Homo sapiens: one gene and its partner. The protein of the gene in region 1 interacts with the protein of each later gene in a biochemical or structural test. Each region holds a gene or a part of one and is shown in the gene's direction. Other genes may lie near its edges.

What was found. Proteins that work in one complex are often made in the same cells at the same time.
Region 2: the proteins of PCYT1B (region 1) and ACTA2 are reported together in a solved structure, tested with the Homo sapiens proteins (one study listed by BioGRID).

What each region holds. Positions count from the first base shown.
Region 1 is NC_000023.11:24,643,950-24,652,006, reverse strand, and holds the start of PCYT1B (choline-phosphate cytidylyltransferase B), read left to right. Parts: upstream 1-4,659; 5' UTR 4,660-4,901; coding exon 4,902-5,018; intron 5,019-8,057.
Region 2 is NC_000010.11:88,942,235-88,950,409, reverse strand, and holds part of ACTA2 (actin, aortic smooth muscle), read left to right. Parts: intron 1-1,456; 5' UTR 1,457-1,479; coding exon 1,480-1,608; intron 1,609-3,023; coding exon 3,024-3,152; intron 3,153-6,502; coding exon 6,503-6,613; intron 6,614-8,175. UniProt on the Homo sapiens protein: Actins are highly conserved proteins that are involved in various types of cell motility and are ubiquitously expressed in all eukaryotic cells.

The sequences.
Region 1 (8,057 bases):
ACTTTAGGACTTTGCTCCAGCTTTGTTCCTCGGTTTCAGCTTTTTTGTTTCCTCTCACTGAGGTCTGTGCATCTTTCTATTTGCTCATGAGCTAACCATGCCTGTCTCACCCCAACCCTAATACCCAGCTCTTGATGACTTTGGGGAGGACAGTAATGTTCATTGTTTTTTTCTAATTATAAGACTAATATAGGGTTGGTGCGGTGCCTCATGCTTGTAATCTCAGCAATTTGGGAGGCCGAGGCAGGCAGATCGCTTGAGCTCAGGAGTTCAAGACCAGCCTGGGCAACATGGTGAAACACCATCTCTACAAAAAATTAGCCAGGCGTGGTTGCGTGTCCTGTAGTCCCAGCTACCTGGAAGGCTGAGGTGGGAGGATCACCTGAGTCTGGGAGGTCGAGGCTGCTGTGATCACGTGACTGCACTCCAGTCTGGGCAACAGAGTGAGACCCTGTCTCAAAAAAAAAAAGAATAATATATGCTCATTTTTGAATATATATATATATATATATATATATATATATATATATATATTTTTTTTTTTTTTTTTTTGAGATGGCATCTCGCTCTGTTGCCCAGGCTGGAGTGCAATGGCGTGATCTCGGCTCACTGCAACCTCCGCCTCCGAGGTTCAAGCGATTCTCCTGCCTCAGCCTCCAGAGTAGCTGGGACTACAGATTCCTGCCAACACGCCCAGCTAATTTTTATATTTTTAAAATAGACGGGGTTTCACTGTTTGGCCAGGATGGTCTCGATCTCTTGACCTCATGATCCACCCACCTCAGCCTCCCAAAGTGCTGGGATTACAGGCGTGAGCCACCGCGCCCAGCCTTGAATATTTGTTAAAGGCAGAAAAATTTGTTTTAAAGTAAAACAAAAATCTTCCATAACCCCACAGTTTAAAGATTTCACTTTTAGCATCTTGATATATTTCCTTCCAATGCTTTTTTCTGTGCATGTACATATGACATAATTGGGCTCATGTTTTTGGAATCACATTTTGCAGCCTGCTTTTCTAACACTATAATGCTAACACGTGCCCATAACATTAGAATTTCTTCAAAAACATGACTCTTAGTGAGTGTACAATACTATATTATATGGACTTATTTTTATTTGAACTATTCCTACTATTGCTGTAAGTTGTATCTTTTTTGCCTTTTATAAATAATTCTGCATTAAGCATCTTTGTACATAATTATTTGTGTGCTTCTCTATTTCTTTTGGGATAAATTACCAAGTGGAATCCCTAGGTCAAAGGGTATGAATATTCTAAAGGCTGTTAGCATATACTGACAAATATCCTCTATGGAATTTCTAATGAAGTTAACACATGCATGGATTTTTTGAAATCATTACCATAATCAAGATACATAATGATTCTTGGACGGCCACAGTGGCTCACGCCTATAATCCTAGCACTTTGGGAGGCCGAGGAAGGTGAATCACTTGAGGCCAGAAGTTCCAGACCAGCCTGGGCAACACAGTGAAACCCTGTCTCTACCAAAAATATAGAAAGATTAGACAGGAGTGGTGGCATACACCTGTGGTCCCAGATACTTGGGAGGCTCAGGTGGGAGGATCGCTTGAGCCTGGGAGACAGAGGTTGCAGTGAGCTGAGATTGCACCACTGCATTCCAGCCTGGCAACAGAGTAAGATCCTGTCTGAAAAAAAAAAAAAAAAAAAAAGCTACATAATAATTCCATTACCCCAATAAACTCTCTCCTGCTATCCCTTCATAGTCATCCCCTTCATAACCCTTATGGAATATTTAGCTCTGTAGTGTGGAATTAACTGATCATTCTTAGCTAATTGTCTTGATAGCATTACAATGCCCCCAAGTTAAAATAACTCACTCAAGTATTATCAAGAAGTTTCTGAGTCAGGTTGTAGCAGCTGCCAGGACTGGTCTCCAAAGTGGGTGGATCTGTTAAGGACTCCTCTCAGAGTGGTGCCTGAAAGAGCCTATTTCTGCCATTAAGACTGCAAGACATGCTGAGATTCAATCACAGGACTGTGGGGAGAGGAGCAGGAAGAAGCCAGGACTAGGCTGGAGCAGAATTAGTGGGAATGGAATTAGTTATAGAGCTGACCCTCAGGGCAGTTAGACAGAAGTCTAAATTTCAAAGTTCAAGGACTTGGGATGAGTAAGTGTCAGGTGTGACGGACTTAGCACAAAGTAGCACTGAAAGCTAAGGATTTGATGTGGGTAATACAATGAAGATATCCTAGGCAAAGGCAGTATCTTGGTTCAATGGGACAGGGGAGGATTAGGAGGAGAAGAAGGTGAGGAAGGGAGACAGAAGATATTGGGAGTCTAAAGGAATGGCCTAGGCTCTTGGACAAGAGTTCACAAGGACTCAGCTAGACATCAGAACTCTTTAAAATGAGCAGGTGAACAGGTGAACCTCTCATTCTGGAGAGAGAATTAGGTGACCAATTAGGAACCAAGGGGTGGCTCAGTGGCCAAGAATACAGTGGGGTTTAGGTGCTTTCCAATGTGAACAGTGACTCTAAGGTAGTGGTTTGTAAACTTTAGCGTGGGTCAGAATGCCTCCCAAACCAGGAGGTTTTGATTCAGTAGGTCTGGAGTGGGAAGCCAGAATTTCTGATTCAGTAGGTCTGGGGTGGGGATCCAGAATTTCTGACAAGTGACCAGGGCTGCTGCTGCACTTCTTGGAGAAGTACACTTTGAGAACCACTGCTCTAAGGCAAAAATACATATATTGAGATTAGAATAACCATGTCATTTGCACGTCACCCAGTACACGTAGGAAAAGGGCTCCTAAATGTAACACAGGGCTTGGCTCTTCCAGGTGATGAGCTGGTAGAGTTAAACCTGCTGCTGGAAGTGTTTTGTGCTTCCAGGAGGGCAAATAGGGTAGGAAGCATCACTGGAATTCTCACAACACTGGAGTTCTGTCCTGTATAGGTCATAATACTCTTAAGTGATGTTATTCTGACTTAAAGGGCCAGCATCTAAAACTGTCAAACTGTAATTCTCTGCTACAGAATCCATTTTCTTCTTCTTTTAGGACTAGCCCTCTTTGCTTATTGAGGAGTAATAAAAATAATGTCCCCTTATATTAGCATAGCACGTTCTAATTCAAAAAGTGCAATGACATGATATCTCATTTGATCTCCTTTCTGTGATGGAGGCAAGCCCGGTATTTTTATCCCATCCTTTGGGCTACTGATTCTCAAAGTATAGTTCCCAGACCTGCAGCATTAACAACACCCAGAAACTCTCTAGAAAAGCAAATTCTGACCCCACCCCAGACTTACTGAATCAGGTCCGGGGTCTGGCAGGGGGCCAATAATTCGCATTTCTAACAAGTTCCCTGGTGATGCTGATGTTGGTGCTGCTGGTCCCAGACCACACTTGAATGAAAACCACTACTGTAGATAAAAATGAAAGATGTAGAAGCCCAGGGACTTGTCCTAAGAGGACTCCTGCCTAGATCCTTTTCTTACTACACCTGCTGCATCCCTGGTCCCTACGCGCCCGCCCCCACCACCTCGCCCTTCGCAAAAAAAAAAAAAAAAAAAAAAAAAATTCCTTCAAATCCCAGCTGCATTATTTTAGAATTTTGTGAATGTGAATACCTGTAAAATGAGGATAACAATAGGATCTACCTCTTTGGGTTCTCACAAAGATTAAACAAGAACTAGGTAAAGTACTTAGCACCGTGCTTGTGCTTAATAAATGCCAGGGATCATCATGATTTTTTATTAATATTAAAAGTGACAATTCACAATGAATACCTTGGTAAGTTCTTTGGATGTGTGTCTTCAGAATGCTCCTCTTAAAATGTGAATGTCCCTAGATAATGTAGACATTAAAGCACCTGATCGTTAACATTCCATCTCTGATTGCCATGAGCATTTGGCTGAGAGCAGGGTACTTCGGAAATGGGACCCACGACTGGTAAAGTAGGAACCAAGAGAAAATAGAGCAGTGCATGGAACAGTGTATTGAAAGGCACACAACAGCAAGACTTCTTGAGGAAACTTTGAATAGCTGGGGAAGGGGAAGAGTGGCTGACAGAGGAAGCAACTGCGAAAGGGCAGCCAGGAGTAGGAGGCAGGCTGTTAAAGACAATCTACCTCCTTCAAAGTTCCCCCTAGGGCAGCCCCAGGGGAGGGCTCCAGGGCTACACCAGGCCACGAGGGGATCTGCCAGGGTTCACGTTGCATGAAGTCCAGGGGTCGAACACTCAGGTGCCCATAGTGAATGCCCGGAGGGGCCCTCCACTGGCAATTAGCACAATGAATTTGGGCTCAAAAGTGGCTTTGTCTTCAGGGTGACTCCTATTTGGCAAATATCCTGACTACAGCACATCATGCACTAGCTCATCCCAGGGACATGGTCCTTTATTAGTGGAGGTCTGCTATGTTGTTTCTCAAGGCGTCCTAGGCCCCTCAGGAAGCGGTTTTATGTTATCTGGGTGGCGCAGCCCGGGTCCCGTGCCCAGAGAGGACGGAGACCTTTGCAACTGAATTAAACAGAAGAAACAAAAGCAGCAAGTTCGGGCCCGTGGGTACGGAGGGCTAGCCAATGGGGCCCGGCCGCTTCCCGGCGGAGTGGTACTATGATGACAGTAGCCAACCAGCGCGCTCTATGCAAATGAGATACTGTATCCCGCACCAGCCGCTTCAGTGTCGTCTGGTTGTTATAGTGATAAACTGAGGCCTTGCCTCTTGGCTTCTGGGAGAGAGAGAGAGAGAGAGGGGCGGGGGGTAACCTCTTTACTTCCCCTAGGGAAGACAGAAAGAAGGGGAGAAGAAGCGGGGGGATGGGTGGAGGGTAGAGGGGAGAAAAATACGTGACAAAGAAAACATTCTCTGCCTGGGAGGAGACTCTCTGAGGGTGTAGAGCTAGAGGGAGCATTCACTGGCCATGCCAGTAGTTACCACTGATGCTGAGTCAGAAACAGGTATCCCAAAATCCCTTTCCAATGAGCCTCCCTCAGAAACCATGGAGGAAATAGAGCACACATGCCCACAGCCTCGACTGGTAAGTAAAGACAAAGGATGGAAATGTATGCGTGGCTATGGCATAAAAGAGTTCCTTATGCGCCCGCAGCCAGCGAGGAAAACGATGCTTAGAGGATTTTCATGTAAATGAGAAGAGCGCTACCGCCTAATCCTTCTCAGCTGTTTATACTTAGCTTCTATACCGGGCGCTGCTCTCAGTTTACAAAGCGTTATTGTATTGGCTGGGTAGGAAACGGGCTGCTTGGGATATGCTGTGTTTTTGTGCTTCGGGAGGAGGGGAGGGCCTTTTTCCTTTTAGGTGTGTTCTTGTCTGAAGGTAAAAAAATCCTACAGTGCAATTTTAAAATGGTATTCTCTTTACCAAGCTCGGGAAGAGTCCCTTGTTAAGTTTTAAATTCTAGCTAAGGAATGCTTCGTTCCTCAACTGATTTTGGTGCCTAATGCCAATTTGGGGGGAAAAAAATGGAAACATGGAAGCAAAACTTCCCCATCCGTTTGAAAATGTTCAAAATAAATAAATAAATAAATACATAGGAGTCCCTCAATGATTTAGTTAGAAATAATACGCATTTAAAACGAATTGTAAAACATTTCCAGAGTGTGCTGTGAGGGTTTCTCTTCAGGTAGTGGAAACCTGGGGAGCTACATTTATTTAGAAAGGGGTTGCATGCCTTTAAGAATGAAAGTGTGGAAACGGGGTACTGAGAGCGTCCTTCCGCCTCCGTAACTGCACCGTAACTGCTCTCCCAAATTTGGTCGTCTCTCTATCCCTGGTCATGATCTTTTAGGTAGATGTGAAACTTCGTTCCCAACCACCTCAGCATGTGTCCTCAAGGAATCAAAAACACGCATGGGTGGTGGGTTTTCTGTGGTCCGAAGTCTTGTGGAACTTGGGGAGACCTCTCTTTGAGTCCCCCAATCCAAAAGACACACTAGTTAAAGCTATCCTTTCCTTTAGCGATTTCCCTCAAGTTAAAAGGTGGAATATTTTGATTGGCTGTGGAGTTTGACCCTGGGAAGAGTTTTTTAAAAAAGGATTTTGTGATGTAGCATTTTCTGTGAACCTGCAAAATTAGGGCTCGCAGATGAGAAGGCCAACCCATCATAAAACTGTTATTTCTTAATAAGAGTTAATAAGGGTTCAAAGGAGGCTTAGAACAACTTCCTAAAAAGCACAAATACAGAGGAAGTTATATTAGAGCCCTGTGGGCTTTTTTCCCCTATGCTTCTATTTTTAAAAATGTTTTCTCTTAGGGCAGTTTAATAGTAACTGTGCCCTAGCACTTTAGCCACTTACTGAATGACATACACAGTGCAGTGTCTATGTTCTCATGAGATACAAACCATCCCAATAAGTTTGTTACTAAGGGATTCCTTTGAGTCACTAAACAACTTATGGTTTAGCATAAAGGAAAATGACCACTAAAAGCATATTACAAGATTATCATATGCACATATACATATATACACATAAATAGAGAGAGAGACTCACTCTGTTTTCCAGGCTGGCCTCAAACTTGAACTCCTGGACTCAAGTGATCCTCCTGCCTCAGCCTCCCAAGTAGCTGGGATTACAGGCTTGTGCCACAGCACTGGACCAATATATATATGTGTGTATATATATATATGTATATACACACATATATACATATATACACACATATGTATATATATTTGTGCCCATGCTTACCCAAAAATATATTTTTTAAAGTAACCACAATCTTCAAATTTGCATCACATACCTTCCTGACAGAGGTAAAGGGCAGAGGAGAGAAAGGCGGCATCCAGCTCCAGTTTGTGCATCATTTCAGTCTCTTTTGCCTACTATTTTTCCTTCCATTTTTACCTCTTAGCTATTCTGCTTCTTGATTGCTTCTGCCTGAGGGAGATGGGCAGAGAAAATTAAGGGAAAGAAGAAAGTTCAAGTTACTTTCTTGTTTTTTTAAGATGGAGTCTCACTATGTCCTCCAGGCTAGAGTGCAGTGGCCTGATCTTGGCTCACCACAACCTCCACCTCCCAGGTTCAAGCGATTCTCCTGCCTCAGCCTCCTGAGTAGCTGGGATTACAGGTGGGCAGCACCATGCCTGGCTAATATTTTTTTGTATTTTTGGTAGAGACGGGGTTTTGCCATGTTGGCCAGGCTGGTCTCGAACTCCTGCCCTCAGGTGATCCGCCCACCTTGGCCTCCAAAGTATTGGGATTACAGGTGTGACCCACTGCACCTGGCCAAGTTACTTTCCACTTTCACTCGTGACAGCTTATTCCAGGTGGTAACTCACAAGAACCACGCAAAGCTGGCAATGTGCTCTACACCCTCACCTCCCACCCATTGTAGAAATAAGGAAACTGAGGTTCAGAGAGGGTAAGTGACTTGCCCAAGGGTCACACTGCTTTGAAGGGGGCAGAGCTGGGATTTGAACCCAGAGCTCTACACCGGAAAAGTGGAAGATCTTTCTTCTATAACATACTCATAAGTGAGATACATTCCCTTCCCATCTTTTTGGCAGTTCTGGTTTCGTGTGTGTGTGTGTGTGTGTGTGTGTGTGTGTGTGTGTGTATCATGCACATGCATAGGTATGATACAGATGTACATAAGTTGAACTGTTGAAGCACCTGCTTTGATTTACTTATGATACAAAATTTTCCACGTTGTTCATCATTGTCATGGGCTACTGAAATTTGACTCTGTTTAAACAGGGGCTTGCAACCAATTTATAAAACACTACTAAAATTTTCAAATTGCCTTCTCTCTTATTAGCTAACTTTGATCACTGTAGGGTTATATTCTAAATTTAGATTTATACTTTATAGCCTAACTTTCCTTTGCTAATGATCTTACTTTAATAACTAAGGCACATGCTAACTACTTAATAAAAAAGTTTGTTGATGAAGAGAGTGAGCAGCAAGTGAAAACATGAAATTAGCATTTCTTTCTCTGGTTTTTAGTAGTTTCTGTTGATCTTGTAGCTTTGCTAGTGTCTTCATATTTCAAATTGTATAAATTCTGCATTTCTCCCAGCACCCAGGCATATAGCTCCAAATTGTATGTGGGTCACT
Region 2 (8,175 bases), on another chromosome or scaffold:
TAATAGCTATTTTATTTCCCTACTTCTCAGATGTTTCCTTAAAAGAACTGCCTTTTTTATATGGATTTGGAGGTGCAATCAGTTAACCCATTTAGAAGAAGAAATTTTCTCAATTTGAAATCCTAATTGAGATCTCAATGCCAGGCAGATAACTCTGGGTGTCCTTCTCTTAACGGAACATTTCGACCTAATTGTGATTAGAAAAGTGGAAGAGGTCTTGAACTGGAAGCCAAGGGGTGGCTAAAGAGTACCTGATGTCTGGCTGGAGCTCTGCCTCTAATGCCCTGTGTGCCCTTGAGCAATCACTTCCTGATTTTCTTATTTGTGAAAATGAGAGCATTGGATGAAAATGTCCTCTAATATGCCTTCAATTTCTCAAATTTGTAAGTTGATAGGCTGCTCCAGCCTTTCTAATTTTATGAAAGGATCCAAGTATAAGATCCAAGTATAAAATGGGTTATTTAAAATTTTGTTTTATTACCAAAGAAATACACATTCAATATAGAAAATTAAAAAAATATGACAGAACCATGGGAAAATAATTAAAAACACCTATAAAACCCACCACTTCATAATAACCTCAGTCAACATCTTGGTAAATATGATTAATCTTTTTGCAATGCATAAAAAATACATTTTTAATGAGATTTACAATGTTACTTTTTCTAACCTATTACTCTTACATAAGAACTACCTTTTGCTTATCCTCTTACTCTACCTTTTTAATGGCAGTAAAGTATTCTACCATATGATATATAATCCATCAGGCTCACCCTCACTTGTTGGACTGTTAGCTTAACAGTGACTTTTATTAACGGTGGATAATTGCAGCCCCTAAAATTTAAAGCACCTTCTCAGAAAATTTTATTTCAAAGCTTCTCTGAGGGTAAAGTAAAAGTCCTCATGATTCAAAAAGATTTTTCCATTAAACACTTGACCATTTTAACATTTCTAAATTTTTACATGCTGCCTGTCCCTCAAAAATCTAGCTTTTTGAAAAAATTTCAAAAAGGTATAGCATATCTAGAAAAATGTGCATTTGGGTTGATACAGACAGGAAAATCTAGATGCTTCTTTAACATAAGGTAGGCAACTTGTCTCTGCAAAGATCTGGTCTCAGACTCTGGATTTCCCATCTGTGCTCTGCAGTTTGTTTATTCATTCACTGGCTCTATCCACCTTTAAAGTGCTCACGAGAACACATGATATGCCGGTCACTACACTAAGGTTGTATCAACATAGAAGTCAGAGTTTCAGAAGTCAGAGTTTCAGCTTACTGAAAGCTTATAGTGTAACTAAAGTACTTCCAGATACATGCTATATTAGATAAGGGTCAGAGGATAGCACTAGGACACAGAGGAGGGCCCCCAAACCCAGCCTTGGAGGTGGGAGTTGTCAGGTAAGTGCCACAAATGCCCAATTACAGCTGAGGCTGCTTCCTCCCTGTTTTCTATAGAATCCTGTGAAGCAGCTCCAGCTATGTGTGAAGAAGAGGACAGCACTGCCTTGGTGTGTGACAATGGCTCTGGGCTCTGTAAGGCCGGCTTTGCTGGGGACGATGCTCCCAGGGCTGTTTTCCCATCCATTGTGGGACGTCCCAGACATCAGGTGAGGAAAATTATGATTGGAACATAACAGGACACAGATTAGGTTCCTCTGTGTTCATGTTTATCCCCAGATTGTCTATCTCTTTCTGCCCAGAAGTTATGTAACCTTGTTACAAATAGACCTCTAATGATTAAGGTCCAGGAGTAAATGCCAATTTCACATATAATGTAGACAGATTATCTGATGGGCATCTATCAGATACAAAGTCTGCCCCTTTTTCATGTCCTTTTTGTCTAAATATAGTCATTATCATCATCATCATCATCATCAAATCATTTCATCACCATCAGAAATGCTTATACATTATCCTGATGTATACCAAAGCTACTGTTTGGAAAGAAACTAAAATAAAAGTCCAGGTCACTTAACCATACAGGGCTGATGTTAGATGAAAGCAAGCATCGATACCAAATGCAATTTTACATAATATTACCTGTCAACAAAATATATTTGGACAGCCGCATGGTAATTTTACACATTATGTGTAAACAAAGTATTGGTGGCATCACATGGTAAAAACTCAGTAATTTCACCTCAGAAATTCTTCTTCACATCAGAAATGTAGTTTGTGCATTGAGGCTATCTGATTGATGTTTATGCCTCTCTGCTTGGGATATATTCATGAGAATAAATAATAGAAACCTCTCCCAATGAATGCAGTCTGTCTGAATTCATTGATCTTTATGCAGTGGAGATATTCTGCACAAGCCGCTATTTTATGGGTCCATAGTAGCCATGGCTGTTTTGTAGTTCTAAAATAGTCACTGCAGTGCAATTTAAAATCTAGTAACAATAATTTTTTAAGAACTTCACCTTAATGATTTTTTTTAAATGCAGCTGACTAATTTAGGCAAATGTCTTAACAGTTGATTGGTATGAACTTATCCATTAGAAATCAAGCCTCAAGTGGTTATTTGTAGATGCAATGCTTTTGCTTATAATAGTTAGAAAATAATGCTCATATTCTTTTGGGTAGGTGATGACTTTAAAAGTACAGTTTAAAGGATTTATAAGACACAAAATGCCATTTAACAAATATGTAAAATTGTATACATTCTTTCAACAAATAATTATTGAGTGCCACATATGTGCCATGCAATTTGCTATAGTGATGGACAAGACAGACATGATCTCTGCCCTAAAAAAGCTCATCAAGGAACATAGGAGATAAAAATACAAAGTAAAGTTGACTTTCCCCCAACATCTCCTGTTATTTGGAGGCAATTCAGGTCTTTTTCCAATCAACTGCAGAATTTTGCTTAAGAGCATAGTGGCAATGAGACTCAATATGTTTATTGTTGCTGATAATCAGAAGAGGAACTTCCCATCTCAATGACTTAACCTTTTGTGGCTTGGCTGTAATTGATTCACAAGTTTTGGGAGATGCTGACTCATAATGTGTTGAACCTTTTTAGGGGGTGATGGTGGGAATGGGACAAAAAGACAGCTACGTGGGTGACGAAGCACAGAGCAAAAGAGGAATCCTGACCCTGAAGTACCCGATAGAACATGGCATCATCACCAACTGGGACGACATGGAAAAGGTATGGGAGGTTTGCTGCAGCTTGGGCCCTCAGGATGCATAATCCCTGTGTTCTCTGATACAGAACACCACACTACTGCTGGGGAAATAACTGGCTCACATTGCTCAACTGTACTTTTACTTGTTAATGTTCATTCTGGGTTATTACCCATTGAAAAAAAAATCCTTGTAGCCATAAAAAATGATGAGTTCATGTCCTTTGTAGGGACATGGATGAAGCTGGAAACCATCATCCTCAGCAAACTGTCGCAAGGACAAAAAACCAAACACCGCATGTTCTCACTCATAGGTGGGAATTGAACAACGAGAACACATGGACACAGGAAGGGGAACATCACACACCGGGGACTGTTGTGGGGTGGGGGGAGGGGGAGGAATAGCATTAGGAGATATACCTAATGTAAATGACGAGTTAATGGGTGCAGCACACCAACATGGCACATGTATACATATGTAACAAACCTGCACGTTGTGCACATGTACCCTAAAACTTAAAGTATAATAATAATAAAATTTAAAAAAAAAAGAAAAAAAAATCCTAAAATGTTTCTTTAAAAAAAAATCCCTTGCCAGGCATGGTTGCTCACACGTGTAATCCCAACACTTTGGGAGGCCAAGGTGGGAGGATCGCTTGGCCCAGGAGTTTGAGACCAGGCTGGGTAACATAGTAAGATCCTGTCTCTACAAAAAATAAATGAAATTAGCCAGGCATGGTGGCACACACCTCAGTCCCAGCTACTTGAAAGATTGAGGTGGGAGGATCACTTGAGCCTGGGATATGGAGGCTGCAGTGGGCCAAGATCCTACTCCAGCCTAGGTGACAGAGTGAGATCCTATCTCAAAAAAAAGAAGAAAAAAATCCTGCAGGGCACAGTGACTCACACCTGTAATCTCAGCACTGGATCACTTGAGGCCAGGAGTTTGAGACCAGCCTGAGCAACATAGCAAAACCCTGTTTCTACTGAAAAAAAAAAAAAAAAAAAGGTTTAATTAACAGTGTGTGGTGGCATGCAACTGTAGTCCCAGCTACTCAGGAGGCTGAGGTGGTAGCATCATTCGAGCCCAGGAGTTCGAAGCTGCAGTGAGCTGATCATACCATCAGCTGTTGCACTCCAGCCTGGGCAACAGAGCAAGACTCTGTCTCTAAAGAAAAGGAAAAAAATGTCCTTGCCTATTAGGTTTTATTAACTAATTAAAGGATGATAGTTCTGTAGATGAGAAGAGTAGCCCTTTGCCACTGCAGGGAATTAATCATCTGTTGCTCACGTCAACTCTGTTGCCCTCCTAGGACAAGCAGTGCATGAGCAGCAGCTCAGAGAATGAAAACCCTCCTTTCATTTTCATCAGGGGCTGCATGGTTATCCCTCTCAGTGCAATATAGCTAAAGGGGCTTGAAATGCTGGGAGTAGTCTTAAACAGCCCATTCTTGAAAGGTTTTCATTAACTCACTCTAAACATCTAAATTAAAAATGTTTTTGTTTTCACTATAGTAAACAGGAGTGTAACATTGCAGGTTTGGTACATTTCTGAATGCCTCTCCACACACTGAAGCACAAGAGCCACTGAAAAAAGCTATATGATAAATATTTTAAAAATTATTTATCTGTGTTGCATTACATGAGGCCTTATCTCCCAGACACTTAATAAAAGAGCTAATGAGAAGAAGAGCTAAATTCTAAGATTTTGATGTTTGGTCATTAAACATTACAGACACCAGTGATCAGAGAAAAAAACAGAAGAAATAATGAGAAAGTGACATAAAAAATTTTAAATGCAGCAAGATATATCAGAATCACGATATCTGGCCTTTTATTTATCTATCGGCTCACTACTACTACTACGCACACAATTTATCACTTAAAAGAAAAATACATAATGTTGTTAGAATTTATCAGCAGTAATGCTCCAAGCTCTATCTTTCTACAAAAATTTCATATCAGTAGGTTTGCTTGAGGATTCTAGATTTGGTAAGATTGCAGTTTGCACAGAGAAAAAGATATCAATATCAATAGGAAAATATTCTTTTAGAATTTCTCCATGGAGCTGACAACATCTTAGAATGTATCGTCCTAGACAGAGACTATTGGAAGAAAAAACTTTCCTTATTTCTAAAATTTAAATTCAAAGTATCTTCTGGTGGGGACGAAGAGAGAGAGAGGAGAAAGGTTGCTTGCTGTGACTGGCAGGATTTTTTGAGCAGTCTGCTGCTTTCACTCCACTAAAGAAACAAAACTTTCAGAAGTTTCATTTCCCTTCTATAAACCACAAATCCAAAACAAAAGAAAGTGGAATAAGATAGTCTTTAAAGCTAATCTTGGTTTTGCTAATTTGTAAGCTTTCACCAGCAGTTCTTGTTTTGCTCTGTTTTGATTTTGAGTGAATCTCATATTCCTGGCTCTGGTGGAGAATTTTCGTGCTTTTAAAGATTAATTAATTTAGTCCTTTTTGCAATGGTTTGTTCTTTTCGGCATCTAGGAATTAAAGAAAGTGCTCAACCATAAATAAATGTAGTTATGTCCAAAGTACCTTCACATAGACACACTATACACAGGCGTGGGCCTTTTGGAAACACCTGAAGGCCAAATGTCTGACTGTGAGTGGAAGATCCAGAGTGTGCTGATAGAGGAAGCTTTTCTCATCCCTCGAGAGCAAAGAGGGTGATGGAGGCAAGAGTCAGAGAGCCCTGTTCTCTTCTTCATGTACACTGCAAAGGGCAACTTCTCTAGAAGCATTAAAAGTGTCAATTAGGTTTTCAAGTAAGCGTCATTTATTCATATATACATTCATTTGTCTTTTTATTTACAAAATTAAATCATTTTCCCATGAACATTAAAATGGGAAGAGAGAACAAAGAAAATAGAGTTGAATAATAATAACATTGATTCTGGACCAGACACTGGGCTGGACAATAACTCGAGGGTTACCTTATTTATTTACACAAAGACCCGATGAGGTACACACTAATTATTTTCATCTCCCTATTACCAATCATGAGACTGAAGCTGAGAAGGGTTAAAAACTTGCCTAAGCTCACACAACTAAGAAGTGTCCGAGCTGGGCTTTGAACCCAAGGTTTGATCAAGGGTTGTGCCCTTAACTGCCATACCATCCTGCCTCACAGATCTGGGTTAGGGATTCTGCTCAGTCACTTAGTAGATGTGAATCCTTTGGGAAGGTACTTACACACTTTGAGCTTCAGTCTCTGCATCTATAAAACCATGGACACATGCATGAGTACTTGTAGCATTTCCTTTGGTCTTGGTTTCAAGTAGCTTCTGGTCCCTTTTTGGGAAATGCAGGACCTCATGACAGCACATCATTGTGTTTCTCCTCTGTCCCCCAACTCACTAGATCTGGCACCACTCTTTCTACAATGAGCTTCGTGTTGCCCCTGAAGAGCATCCCACCCTGCTCACGGAGGCACCCCTGAACCCCAAGGCCAACCGGGAGAAAATGACTCAAGTAAGTATGCTACCCCAGCACACAACACTGTGGGGTCTGGGGAAACTTCTGTTAGAAGGAGGCTATGCAGCACAGCAGAGAGAAGGCCGGAGCTAGGAGTCCACCAACAGACTAACAGCCTTCAGTGAACTCAGGGATCCCAAAGGACAGGAACAGCTTGAAAGTACTTGCATCCTTCCTGCAGGGACCAGCCCTTTGCCTCCAAAAGCAATAGGAAATTTAAAAGATTTCACTGAGAAGGGGCCACGTTTAAGTTATAATGTCTAAGGAGAAGTCACTTCAAAATGCAGCATCACATACAATAGGAATTTGGGTTCCAGAGTCAGACATATCTAGGTTTGAAAACTGGATCTGCCACTTATCAGTTATGTGACCTTAAAGAACTCCGTTAATTTCTCAGAGCCTCAGTTTCCTTGTCTATAAGTTGGGAGTAATATTAATACTATCATTTTTCCAAGGATTGATGTGAACATTAATGAGGTGAAATGACAGATGTGTATCATGGTTCCTAATAAACATCCAAAATATAGTACTTACTATTGTCATTATTATTACTTGTTTGAAGCTAAAGACCTCACAATAGAATCCCATCCAGCCCACCAGACAGAGCTCTGAGTTTTCTAGTTTGGAAGAGCTATTAAATAACAACGTCTAGTGTCAATTCTATACTTGTTATGGTCAAGTACTGGGCTCAGCATTTTACATTCATTGTCTCTTTAAGTTCTAGCAATGTGAAGCAGGAACTATGATTATATTGACTACATAAATGAAGAAATTGAGGCTCAGATACATTAAGTAATTCTCCCAGGGTCACACAGCTAGAACTGGCAAAGCCTGGGATTGATCCACGATCTTCCAGCATTGAAGAATCATAAATGTAAATAACTGCAAGGCCTTTTCCTCAGAAGAGCTCCTGGTGCTTGCACCAACCCACTAGCACTTGTTCTCTACAGGGGAACATCTGTGGGCCTGGGAATCACTGCACGTCGCAAGAGATGTTGCTTCTGATGAATTATTGTTCCTGTCAGTGGTGTGAAGGCAAAAAAAAAAAAATGGTTGGAAATTATGGCTTGCTAGCAAATGATGTCAGACATTCTGGTTAATAGAGTAGGAAGGGTCTTACAGATGGAGAAATGAAGACCCACGGACATCTCCTGATGCACAAACTTCTCACAAGTGACCTGGAGGGGCTTGGTTCTAATCTTGTCCCTGGACTGCACCAACTGGGGCACTGACATTCTATGTGGTCCTCTATTACCATTGGGCTGGTCCTGTCTTCCAGGAACCAGGGCCTCTCCCACTGCAACCAGAATGGCCTCAGATTCTAGGGTTAGCATTGACCCAGTAACTACATAAAAAAGTGGAATAGATTAAATAGAACCTCAGACAAATCACAGAAATGGGGCTAAACCTAGCCAGCCTGAGCTTCAGATTTAAAAGTTCTCTTTCTTTATACCAGGGAAATCAAAACCTGGATGTTGTCTTCTCTTTTTCTTCTGGCTTTGACATAGTTAACAAGCCCTAGGATGTCTGCACTGGAAAAATGGGAGATCTCATTTAGT